Linked DNA regions of Homo sapiens: region 2 is linked to region 1. Evidence: fine-mapped expression QTL. A gene starts in region 1. The other region holds a variant in brackets. All regions are shown on one strand. Distances are between the middles of the regions.

The links. PIP is the estimated chance that this variant, and not a neighbour inherited with it, causes the effect.
Region 2: its variant is fine-mapped to the expression of DENND11 in whole blood (INTERVAL, PIP 0.97).

What each region holds. Positions count from the first base shown.
Region 1 is chr7:141,700,536-141,703,448 of GRCh38, reverse strand. DENND11 (DENN domain containing 11) reads left to right here and starts at 1,283. Exons shown (of 9, transcript NM_001080392.2): 1 at 1,283-1,563. The coding sequence starts at 1,296.
Region 2 is chr7:141,910,860-141,913,772 of GRCh38, reverse strand. It overlaps the pseudogene OR9N1P. Among named protein-coding and RNA genes, the nearest start is that of OR9A4, 4.1 kb to the left of the region's middle. The variant T/C (reference allele first, on the strand shown) is at 1,404.

The sequences.
Region 1 (2,913 bases):
TCCAAGGGATGAGCTCTGGAGGTCATCAGTAACTTGGTCAAACATCCACAGCTACTTCTTCATCCTTCTGATCCAATCAAGAGATTCCTATGCTGAAGTTTTACCTTTCAGGAAAGGCTGAACTAAATATGTAAATAATGAAAGTAGACCCTGTTCTTGGGGGTAAAATGCTGCATAAGTACATTCTTTATTGTTATATCATAGATTTTAGATTAGAAGTGGCAGCCTAGGGCAGTCATTGATTATCTTCTTAGGGATAGGGGTTAAATCACATTATCATTGCAGTGCTGACGTGTAGGACACGGAGGTTCATAAACATCCCGTGGAGTAGCACCCAGCACATAGCTCTACTGGGTCCTTTTGCGAACAGGCAAACCATGGAGCCTTGCTGAACCCTGGATGAACTGTGTACCTCCTTCTCTTGCCACCTCCTTCTTTCTATTTTAATAGCTATTCCTATTTTTATACACATCTCCTCTTAAAGAGTTACTTAGCTGCTAGATTTACCTCAAGGATTGAGGCATGTAAAATTTATTTTTAAATATAAAATGGGGGTTCACAGAAAACCCCTAATCCATTTCCAAAGCCATCAGCTTTAGAGCTGACTTTCCTCTTTCTCCCCTGAGCAACTTCCTTTTCCTGATCTTCTGAGGGAATATCCCTCGTCCCACAAATGCTCCAGCACCTCCTAATTTAATACCCTCAAGTTGTATATATACCAGGAAATAAACTCATAATCTCCATCCTAATCAGTTTGTAATATAAAAGGAAGAACAAAATTCCCAAACTTTAACCCTATGGCCTTTTCAGTGTTTATTGATGAGTATATTGCAAACACCTGGGTAGCCAGAGCACCTCTGCTTCACTCCTCTGCTTAGAAGCAGCTTCTGCCACACATCCAGGATTATGTAATACATATCTGTCACGGTCCACAGGACCAGCGGACTTTAAAAAATAATGGTGACATAAAAACTCACAGTGGTAGCTATACCACGGAACCCTAGGTGAGAAGGCACCTCCACCCGCACACAGGTGTATGGACGCAAGGATGAACGTTCCGGCCGCACGCGTCCCACACACGGACGTGCACACGGGCGCCTCCGAATAGGCTCGCGGTTCCCGAAGCCGGCTCCGCGGACGCCTGCTCTGGCTCCGTGGGAAAGGCGCCTCCGCGGCGGGGCCCCGGGCAGCGCCAGACCCGGCGGGCGGCGGCGGCGTTGGCGCGGCCAGGCGAGGGGGGTTCCCGCAGCCCGCCCGCCCCGCCCCTCGCGCCCGCGGCTCCGCCTCGCCTAGCCATGGTGGAGCAGGGAGACGCGGCGCCGCTGCTGCGCTGGGCCGAGGGCCCCGCCGTCTCCCTGCCGCAGGCCCCGCAGCCGCAGGCGGGAGGCTGGGGCCGGGGCGGCGGCGGGGGCGCCCGGCCGGCCGCGGAGCCGCCCCGGAGGCGGGAGCCCGAGGAGCCGGCCGCCCCGGAGGTGCTGCTGCAGCCCGGGCGCCTGGAGCTGGGCGACGTGGAGGAGGACCAGGTGGTGGCCGTGTTCGTGGTCACCTTCGACCCCCGCTCGGGTGAGGGCCGCGCCGGGGCCAGGCGCGTGGGGAGGGTCGGGGTGCCCCCGAGCTTTGGGGGCGCGGGGGAGGGGCTCGCTGCGCGCGCACCTGCCCTCCCGGCCCCGCACCCCGCACCAGGGCCGGCCCCGGGCTCCCGGGCTTGGGGAAGGGCGGGGGTCGGCCAGTCCTCAGCTCTCTCCCTCGGGGCGCAGCTGGGTGCTGGCGCGCGGCCTCTCGGAGCGGCCCCGAGGGCTTTGTTCCAGCCCCGCCGACCTCCTCTCCCCTCCCCTCCTCTCCTCTGAGTCCCAGCCCCACAGTGGTGTTCGCACTTCAGTGACAGGGCATCCGGTTTGTGGCCACGTTGGGTTTTGTTTTCTTTTCTTGGGGGCTAGAAGATTTTTCACGTTGTGCGGAGGAAACCCCCCGGGCGAGCGCCCTGAGCTCCCCGCTCGCCCCCCATCCCGTCCCCCGCTCCCCGCTCGCCCCCCACCCCGTCCCCCGCTCCCCGCTCGCCCCCCACCCCGTCCCCCGCTCCCCGCTCGCCCTAGCTCCCCGTCGCTTCCTCTGGGGTAACTTTCCTAGCGGCCAAGTTCACTTTCTCTGACTGCATTATTTTGAGGAATTAACGCCGGGAGCATTAAGGGATGGGGCTGAGGGATTCAGCTGAAGGCTGATTAAAGGAGAAGCCTCCCCGGATAGGCTGTCTTTCGGAGATGCTTGGAGAATTAAAGTCTTATCCCACATAATCTTAGCCTAACCACCCGGCAGGGGGGTGTGCGTTTTCCAGGTGAGAGTCCACGGGGGACAGAAGGTGGAAGAACGACCCTGCGCGCCCAGGAAGCCTTGGAGGGTCAGCTAGGGACTTCTGACTCTGAGAGTGGCTCTGCTGTTCGGGGTTGGGGGAAGGAGGTGTCATCGCAGGAGTCGTGGTGTCAGGGCTTAAGGAAACCCAGGTGTGACTGTCAATGTCTCCAGGGCAGCTGCTGGAGTGTGGAGTGCCTGTTCGTGCGGGAAAATATTGGCTGCTTTCTGGGATGAGGTGGGATGGAGTGGAGAAAAAAAGGGGTTAGGATCTGGAGAAGGGGAATCTGGTATGGCAGCTGATGATGGGTTCCAGGCCGGTAATTTTGGGGTTCTCAGCTGTAGGACACAGGAAGAATGTGGGATTCACTGTGGAGCTCCATTTGCAGGGACAGAGTTTGTGGGGACAATTCAGGCCTTTGTGACTTCTGCTTGTTTCTTTGCCACATTCCATGGCTTTCAAACTCTTTTGACTGATCTATCATGTGAAGTTAATTTTACATCACAACCAATATGCTCACATACACGTACAGTACTTATGTAACTGAAATAGACATTTCATGAAGT
Region 2 (2,913 bases), 210 kb before region 1:
TTAGATGGCGTCTCACCCTGTTACCCAGGCTGTAGTGCAGTGGCATTATCTCGGCTCCCTGCAACCTCCACCTCCACCCCCAGGATTCTAGCGATTCTCCTGCCTCAGGCTACCTAGTAGCTGGGATTACAGGCACCCACCACCATGCCAGGGTGTGTGTGTGTGTGTGTGTGTGTGTGTGTGTGTGTGTGTGTGTGTGTGTGTGTATGTTTTTAGTAGAGGTGGGGTTTTGCCATGTTGGCTAGGCTGGTCTCGAACTCCTGACCTCAGGTGATCAACCTGCCTTGGCTTCCCAAAGTGCTAGGATTATGGGCATGAGCCACCATGCCTGGCCTCATTGTTGTTTTAATTTCCAATTCCCTGATGATATATGATGTGGAACATCTTTTCACATGCTTATTTGTCATCTATACATGTTCTTTAGTGATCTATTCAGATATTTCCCCATTTTTGTAACCAAGTAGTTTCTTGTTGAGTTTTGAGGTTTTTGTATATTTGTGATACATGTTCTGTAATGTGTATGTGTTTTGCAAGTATTTTCTTCCAAACTGTGTCTCTTCTTCTCATTCTCTTAAGTCTTTCTTTCACATATTGTGCTTTTGGTATTGTAGCTAAAAAGTCACTACAAAAGCCAAGGTCACCTAGGTTTTTCTATGTTTTGTTTTAGAGTTGTAAAGCTTTACATTTCACATTTAGGTTTATGATCCAAGTAGAGTTAATTTTTTGCCAAAGGTATAAAGTCTGTGTCTAAATTTTGTTTGTCTGTTTGGTTTGGATTTCCAGTCATTCCAGCAACATTTGTCGAAAAGATTATCCTTTCTCATTGGATTGCCTTTCTTCTTTTATTAAAGATTCGTTGACTATATTTGTGTGGGTCTATTTCTGGGCTCTCTGTTATGCTTCATTGATCTAATTCTCTATTCTTTTGCCCAAAACATACTGTCTTGCTTACGGTAGATTTTTAAATTTTTAACAGCTTTATTGAGGAATGGTTGATATAGAGAAAACTGCACACATTTAAAGTAAACAATTTGATGAACTTGGAAATAAGTGTACATCTATGAACCCATCACCACAATTAAGGTAATAAACCTATTCATCACTTTTTTTTTTTTTCTGAGATGGAGTCTCTCTTTGTCACCTAGGCTGGAGTGCAGTGGCATGATCTCCACTCACTGCAACCTCTGCCTCCCAGGTTCAAGTGATTCTCGTGCCTCAGCCTCTGGAATAGCTGGGATTATAGGCGCACGCCACCATGCCTGGCTAATTTTTGTATTTTTAGTAGAGATAGGGTTGGCCAGGCTGGTCTTGAACTCTTGGCCTCAAGTGATCCGCCTGCCTCGACCTCCCAAAGTGCTGGGATTACAGGCGTGAGCCACTGAACCCGGCCCTATTAATCATTT[T/C]TAAGGAGTTATTCCTGCCCCTTTATTGTTACTGTTGTTGTTGTTGTTTATTGCGGTAAGAAGACTTACCATGAAATCTACCCCTCTTAACAAATTTTTAAGTGCACAATACAGTATTGTTAACTATAGGCACAATGTTATACATCAGATCTCTAGAAGCTACTCTCTTGTATTATTAAAACTTTATACCCATTGAACAGCAACTCCCCATTTTTCCCTGGAAAAACCATTCTATTTTCTGCTCTTATGAGTTGGACTATTTTAGGTACCTTACATTTGTGGGATATTGTCCTTCTGTTTATTTCACTTAGCATGTCCTCTAGGTTCATCCTTGTTGTCAAATATGGCAAGATATCCCTCTTTTTAAGGCAGTTTCAGCTTTCAGCTCTTGCATTTAAGTTTTTAATTCATTTTGAGTTGATTTGAAGGGAGCTGAAATGTGGCATAGACTGACCAGATTTCAGAAAGGAACCCAATCAATAATACAATTACCAGCCAGATGCAGTGTGTCTGCTCATAATGATGTTTTACTTCAAAGAGTTACAGAGAGCCACATAATGGTTCACAGTCATCACTCCCAGTAATGCAAATTTTGTGTACCCCCAAAAAAGTTCATATAGAGTTGGACAGCACATGTCATTAAAGGTATTGTTTGAATCATGGAAAGTAACAACCCCTGAGCATCAAGGGAACAGCAGTATATGTGATAAGGATTTCCATGACAGAGAGGTCACCATAGAATAAATATAGGAGGAACAGCAGGCATTTCTCAACACATACTATGATGATTACATAATTTCTTATTACAATCACTGACAAAGGAAGAAGGTAACAAATGGCATACTTACTGGGAGCCAGGGAAGCCTAAGAGACAAAATTCAGTAACACCACTGTGACTCCCACATATTTAGTCCTGAGGATTTGCTCCTTGTGAAATGGAAAGAGCCAAAAAAAAAAAAAAATGAGACTGCTTCTGATCACAAAAGGACTAAAGACATTTCCAGATTGAGAAAATATTCCCCTCCGGCTTCTAGGCTCCACACCATGACTCTATACAAGGTTGATGTTAAATGTTTTATGAAGAATAGATAGGTAGGTAGAATGGTAGATAAATGTATATGTCCAAGAAGATAAGCACTGGTCACCAACACTGCACCACAGGCATGAAAACCCATCCACCCCAGCACGCACTGTTGTCTCTCAATTCACTGGACATCTCAGCTCCAACTCTGCTCTGACCAGATACCCTAAGTACTTCCTTGATCACAACCTGCTCATTTATGTCTTCCATCCTGAATGGAACTAAACTGTCTTCTCTACCTATTATGTCCGTGTCATACAAAAACCTACTGCATCTCAACAGTTATACAAAAGTATTTTTAGCAAATCCTACTTAGATGTGGTTACTTCTTTCCTTTGTTTCCTCTGAGTGTGAGTGATATTGTTTGGCTTTGTCCCCACCCAAAAATCTCATCTTGAATTGAAATCCCCATAATCCCCATGTATCAAG